Homo sapiens: one gene and its partner. The protein of the gene in region 1 interacts with the protein of each later gene in a pairwise test. Each region holds a gene or a part of one and is shown in the gene's direction. Other genes may lie near its edges.

Evidence for each region.
Region 2: the proteins of MEST (region 1) and SNX7 interact in a two-hybrid assay, tested with the Homo sapiens proteins (one large-scale study listed by IntAct).

What each region holds. Positions count from the first base shown.
Region 1 is NC_000007.14:130,498,585-130,502,084, forward strand, and holds part of MEST (mesoderm-specific transcript homolog protein), read left to right. Parts: intron 1-1,290; coding exon 1,291-1,331; intron 1,332-1,877; coding exon 1,878-1,948; intron 1,949-2,204; coding exon 2,205-2,306; intron 2,307-3,500.
Region 2 is NC_000001.11:98,755,721-98,758,360, forward strand, and holds part of SNX7 (sorting nexin-7), read left to right. Parts: intron 1-2,640. UniProt on the Homo sapiens protein: Involved in the regulation of endocytosis and in several stages of intracellular trafficking. Together with SNX4, involved in autophagosome assembly by regulating trafficking and recycling of phospholipid scramblase ATG9A.

The sequences.
Region 1 (3,500 bases):
AAACTATGGGATCTCTACCTCTTCTGTGCCATCAACTCCTTTGGTGGTCTGACAAGATTTATGGACCCTTTCTCAGAATGTTTTAAAATAAAGAAACAAACAGCATTACAAAGGATAGTGACTTTACTTACATAGTCAATAAAAAGCTGCATTATAGTCACATGTGCTTTTTCAATGCATTAGATAGCAAGTTCTAGTGGAGGACCTAGTAACAGCTATATCAGAAGGAGTGAGGAGTGTAAAGACTGTTTGCCATATCTGAAACAACTGCAATAGGTTATGAGAGTGTAGGATTGAAGATACAGAAAAAAGCCACAAGTGTTTCTAATACTACTATGATGTTAGTGTAGAAAATCCTTACTTAATGTCATCAATGGGTTCTTGGAAACTGTGACTTTAAATGAAACGTTATAATGGAACCAATTTTTTTTCTCATCAATGTTTTAAAGAAAGGATGTTATTCAAGGACCTGCTGTACCTCATTCTGCTTAAAGCCGAAGTTTCCAAGAACCTATCCTGATGTTAAGTGAGGACTTAACTGTATGAGATTCCCCAACTCCTAACTGATGGCAGTGCCAAGTTTCAGTTAGAAAATACCGAACCCCTGATTAGACTTTCTGGGTAGCCAGCTTGCAAGTTCATGAATATCCAAATGTCTCCTGAACGCCTTAAGAGCAGACTGGGAGAGAAATCCGTCTCTCCCTTTATCACTTATGCTCATGGCTTTCTTCCACTGACTCTGAAGAGAAAGGGAAAAGGAAAAACTCTAGGGTTTTTAAAGGACCTATACTTATTTAAAAACTTCTTGTTTTATTCTTACAGCCCAAATCATTAACCCTCGTGTTCTGAGTGATAGGGGGAAATGCTAAGGGGAGTCAGAGCCTGGTTATCAGCATTTTGGATGACCATATATTTTCTCCCCGTTTCACTATCTTTAAGATGGGAAAAGTAATTCCAGTGGGATTTATTGTGACCAGTTAAACACAGAATTCCTGGAGAAGTAATTAGATGACAGTTTTAAATTGTTATTTGTAATTCTGTTTTGGTAGTAAAGGCTGCAGAGGTGATGGTGAATAGGGTGGGTAGTTTCTGATAATGGGCTTGCCTTTGACCTAAATGTAGGTAGGCTGGGTGAGGTGGCTTGCACCTGTAATCCCAGCACTTTGGGAGGCTGAGGTGAGAGGATTGCTTGAGCTCGAGACCAGCTGGGCAACCCAGTGAGATCCCGTCTCTATAAAAAAAAAAAAATTAAAGCTGTAGGTAAATGACTAAGATAAGTCTCTTCTACAGGTATCTTTCCTGAGACTCACCGTCCACTCCTTCTCCAAAAGGTTGGTACTTCACTGATAGACCTTTAGTTTTAGGATTTGTACTGACGTAAATAATGCTGGGACCTTTTAAGGGCCATAGCTCCTGTAACTGGCAGTAGTTAAATCCTCTTCCTTGTGAATTTCTATTAATGAAGTTACTTTTTCCCTTCTTAGGCAACTAAAGCAGAGGCAGTGGCCCCTACGTAAACCCAAAACCAATCCTAAGAATAAGAGATCAACAAATATTTGGAGAAATTACAGCTATGGAAAGATCTGTGTCACAAGCTTGATGTTTGAACAAATTAGGATCCTACTCTAAACTTGAATATATCAGAGTTAAAGTTTTAGGGATTTAGTGAATTGTAGAAAAGTAATCTTAGATGGAATTAGAAATAGATTTGTCTTCCTTGAGAGAAGAATGCGGGTAGGCAAAACAAAATGCCAAGTACCAAACCATTCAGTAGCAGGAGATTTGGCTAAAGATTTAGTTCCTAGTATAAAACCTTTTGCCCCGGTGAGGATCTTCCTCTGGGTTCTTGAGCTTTACCTCCACTTATTCCCCTCCAGCTACTCAAAGATGGAGGTGTGCTGTCACCCATCCTCACACGACTGATGAACTTCTTTGTATTCTCTCGAGGGTAAGTGTCACTGTCAAAGATTGTGGCCTAGAGCAATGTCGTGAAAAGTTGCTGCCATTACAATTCTGGGCCAAATCCTAAGGCTTGATATTTTAAAGCAAAGGTGTTGGCCGCTTGCCAGGGAAGTAGAAGGAATTCATAAATCACTTATGGGTCAGACTGCATGGCCCAGACTGCATGGCCTCTGAGGTTCCAGCCATATTGAACATTCTGAGTTCTCCTCACACTTATCTTCCTGCGTTTTGGACTCTTTCAGTCTCACCCCAGTCTTTGGGCCGTATACTCGGCCCTCTGAGAGTGAGCTGTGGGACATGTGGGCAGGGATCCGCAACAATGACGGGAACTTAGTCATTGACAGGTAAGAAGTTACCCTTTGCTTTGGTTTCCAGAGACGTGTTTTTGTGGAGAGTGGGGATTGCTTGTTCTGTTCCTTGCTGGCTTATTCCCTATCACAGGAAGGCTGATGATGACCTATGGGGCAAACCAAAAAGTCATGGTCTATATGAAGAAAGAAATAGAAAATAAGAGTGAAACTGGACTCTTTGTTAGTATTAAATGCTTCAAAGTATTGAATCATGGTTGTGAAAGTAGCCTAGTGCCTCCCTCAAGGTACAAGGCTCTTCCTTTTGCCTATCTTTCTGCAGCAACGGGGAGTGAGAGGGCAGACTTCTCTTTCTCTGTCTTGTACAAAGAATTCCCATGCCTTGGTTCAAATGAGAATGTAGACACTTTCACAAGGGACCCAGAGGTGGTGATAGCTGTAACTACTTGGGATAAGACTCTGACTTCTAGCCACCTGGCTCAGTGTAGCTTCCAGTGTTTTTACTGATGGCTTTGCTGGGGATTGTATGTTAGAGGGAGCCAATCCTCCCACCCTCTCCTAAGCCCCAACAGGATCCCTGAATATTTCATTTTAGTATTAAAAAACTGAAGAACAATTAAGACTGTCTTTTAAAATTATATTTTCCTTTCCAAAAAGTAAATACTATTTGTAAGATGAGATATTTGAGGTTCACAAAAATAACTGTCCTGGAGTTGCCAGGCAGAATGAGTAGAATACATGAGTTTGAGTTCTAAAATGTGGCAGTGGTGTCTTACGCTGGAGAAAGAGGAATCCTCTCCATTTTATCTGTGGTCAGATGAAGCTTTGTGCTCATCAACATCTACACTTAGAATTTTGAAGTAGATGTCGGCTGGGCACAGTGGCTCACGCCTGTAATTTGAGCACTTTGGGAGGCCAAGGTGGGCGAATCATATGAGGTCAGGAGTTTAGAGACCAGCCTGGCCAACATGATGAAACCCCGTGTCTACTAAAAATACAAAAATTAGCCAGTAATTCCAGCTACTCAGGAGGCTGAGGCACAAGAATTGCTTGAGCCCAGGAAGCGGAGGTTGCAGTGAACTGAGATCATGCCACTGCACTTCAGCCTGGGCACAGAGTGAGACTCCGTCTCAAAAAAAAAAAAAGAAAAAAAAAAAGAAGTAGATGTCAACACAGAAGATCATGTGTTACAATCCTCTTATTTTAAAAATGAGGAGGCTAGCCAGGTCC
Region 2 (2,640 bases), on another chromosome or scaffold:
CCCAAACTGCTGGGATTACAGGCATGAGCCACCATGCCTGCCCATATATATATTTTTTAATCCTTTTAATTTTAACTATATTTGTCCTTATATTTAAAATATTTATAAGAAATTTAAACAAAGTATAGGTAGGTCTTGTTTTTTTATTCAGTTGGCAATCTGCATCTTTTAATGGTGTGTTTAGCATGTAGACATTTGAGTAGGATTATTGATATATTTGAGTCTTTTATCTTGCTGTGTTTTATTTGTTCTGTCTGTACATTGTTCCTATTTTCTTCTTTTGCCTTCTTTTGAATTGATAGACAATTTTACATGATTTCATTTTACATCTCTTTGTGGTGTATTAGATGTAACTCTTTTGTATTAGGTATAACTTTTATTATTTTAGTGGTTATTTTTAGGTTACTGTATGTGTCTTAAATTTATCATAGTCTACCTTCAGGTAGTATTATACTTCATATATAAGAACCTACAAATGTGTTTTTTCATTCCCTTTCATCTGGCTTTTATGCTGTTTTTGTCATACATTTTGCCTATACATGTATTATAAGCCCTGCAAGATTTTGCTATTTTTAATTCATTAGATTTTAAATACATTTAAATAATAGGAAAAGTATGTATCATATGTACTCATGTCGTTACTATGTCATTTGTTTATAGATCCATATTTCTATCTGGTCTCTTTTTTTTCTGCCAGATGAGTTTTTTTTTTTTTTTTTTTTTTTTAATATTGGTTGTAGTGTGTTCTGCTGGTGATAAATTTTGCAGATAATGAATTAAGTGATTTTCCAGTCTGCCTGATGGGATTCTGTACTATTGTAGGCCCTATGAGAATGCTGGATACTGTTTAATCCTTCCCGATGGCTTTTTCCCCTGTCTCTGGTAGTCTTCTCACATGCATGTGCCAGTCAGTACTCTGCTTGGTGTGGGGCACCCTCCGCATATCTCCAGAGCTTTCCATGCACCACTCTCTTCTCTGATACTCTGGTCTATGAACTCTAGCTGCATTTTCTCGAACTCTTAGCTCTATCCTTTTAACTCAGTGAGTCAGCCAGGTAATGTCTCCCTTCACCATGGCCTCGAAATTCTGTTAAGGCAATAAGCTGGCATATTAGAGGGATACTAATATAGTTTAGATATTCGTCCCCACCCAAATCTCATGTTGAAATGTCATCCGCAGTGTTGGAGTTGGGGCTGGTGGAAGGTATTTGGATCATAGTGGTGGATCCCTTATGTATGTCTTGGACCATCCCTTTGGTGATAAGTGAGTGCTTGCTCTGAGTTCACAGGAGATCTGGTTGTTTAGAAGTGTGTAGCACCACCTCCACCACTCCTGCATACGCCATGCGGCATGCCTGCTACCACCTCACCTTCTGCCATGATTGTAAACTTCATGAGGCCTCCCCAGAATCTGAGAAGATGCTGGCAGCAGCTTCCTATACAGCCTGCAGAACTGTGAGGCAATTAAACCTCTTTTCTTTATAAATTACCCAGTCTCAGGTATTTCTTTATAGCAATGCAAGAACAGCCCAATACAGATGCCATAACAAAATTCCAAAGACTAGGTGGCTTAAACAACAGAAATTTGTTTCCTCACAATTCTAGAGGCTAGAAGTCTAAGATCAAGGTGTCAGCAGGCTGCTTTCTTCTAAGGCCCCTCTCCTTGGCTTGCAGATGCCCACCTTCCTGCTGTGTCCTCAGATGATTTTTCCTCCTTGCTCACATTTCTGGTTTCCTCTCTGTGGCCAGATTTCCTCTTCTTATAAGGACACCAGTCATATTGGATTAGGGCTCACCCACATGACCTTATTTTACCTTAATTACCTCTTTAAAGGCCTTATCTGCAAATATAGTCACTTTCTGAGGTACTAGAATTAGAGCTTCAGTCCATAACACTGGGGTAATCATGGAGCTTACTCTTCCCCACCCCACCCCAGGGACCACTATCCTTTGTTGCCTGATTTCCAGGGTGTTGAAAACCATTGCTTTATATATATAGTATCTACCTGATTGATTGATTGATTGATTGATTGATTGAGGCAAAAGAGCCTTTCCAGTCCCTGTTATACCCTCTGGGTCAGCAACAGAAGTCCTGAGCCTGAGTTCTTGATCACTACACTATACTTCCTCACATTGACCTTTCACAAACATGCAGAGATTTATGGGATCTACCTTTTGCTCATCTTTTAGTCTGCATTCAGTGATTACTTCCACTAGGAAACATTAGGACACTCCAATGTGACTTAGATCCTATTACTGTTACTCCCATCATGTCCTGTAACATCACAGACCCTATACTTGATTATATTTGCTTACTTAGGTTTCATGCTAAATCATAATTTCTATTAGTTTGTGGGCTGTGTGCTAGCATCATCACAGTGCCTGGCATATAGTAAGAACTCCAAAATATTTGTTGAGTGAAGAGATTTTTGTATGTCTACCCTCCATGCCCCCCAAATCATGCATAGTTTGGACAATTATAAATTACAGTCCAAAATTTGAAAAATATACTAAATGTGAAGTATTCATCTTTTATGCCTTTTCATGAGTATAGACATTTGGATACACTTAAAGATATCTAAATTCTTCTCCTGTACCGTCTAAGAGGAGGCCATTCTTACTAGTTGGCTCCTGTAGTAA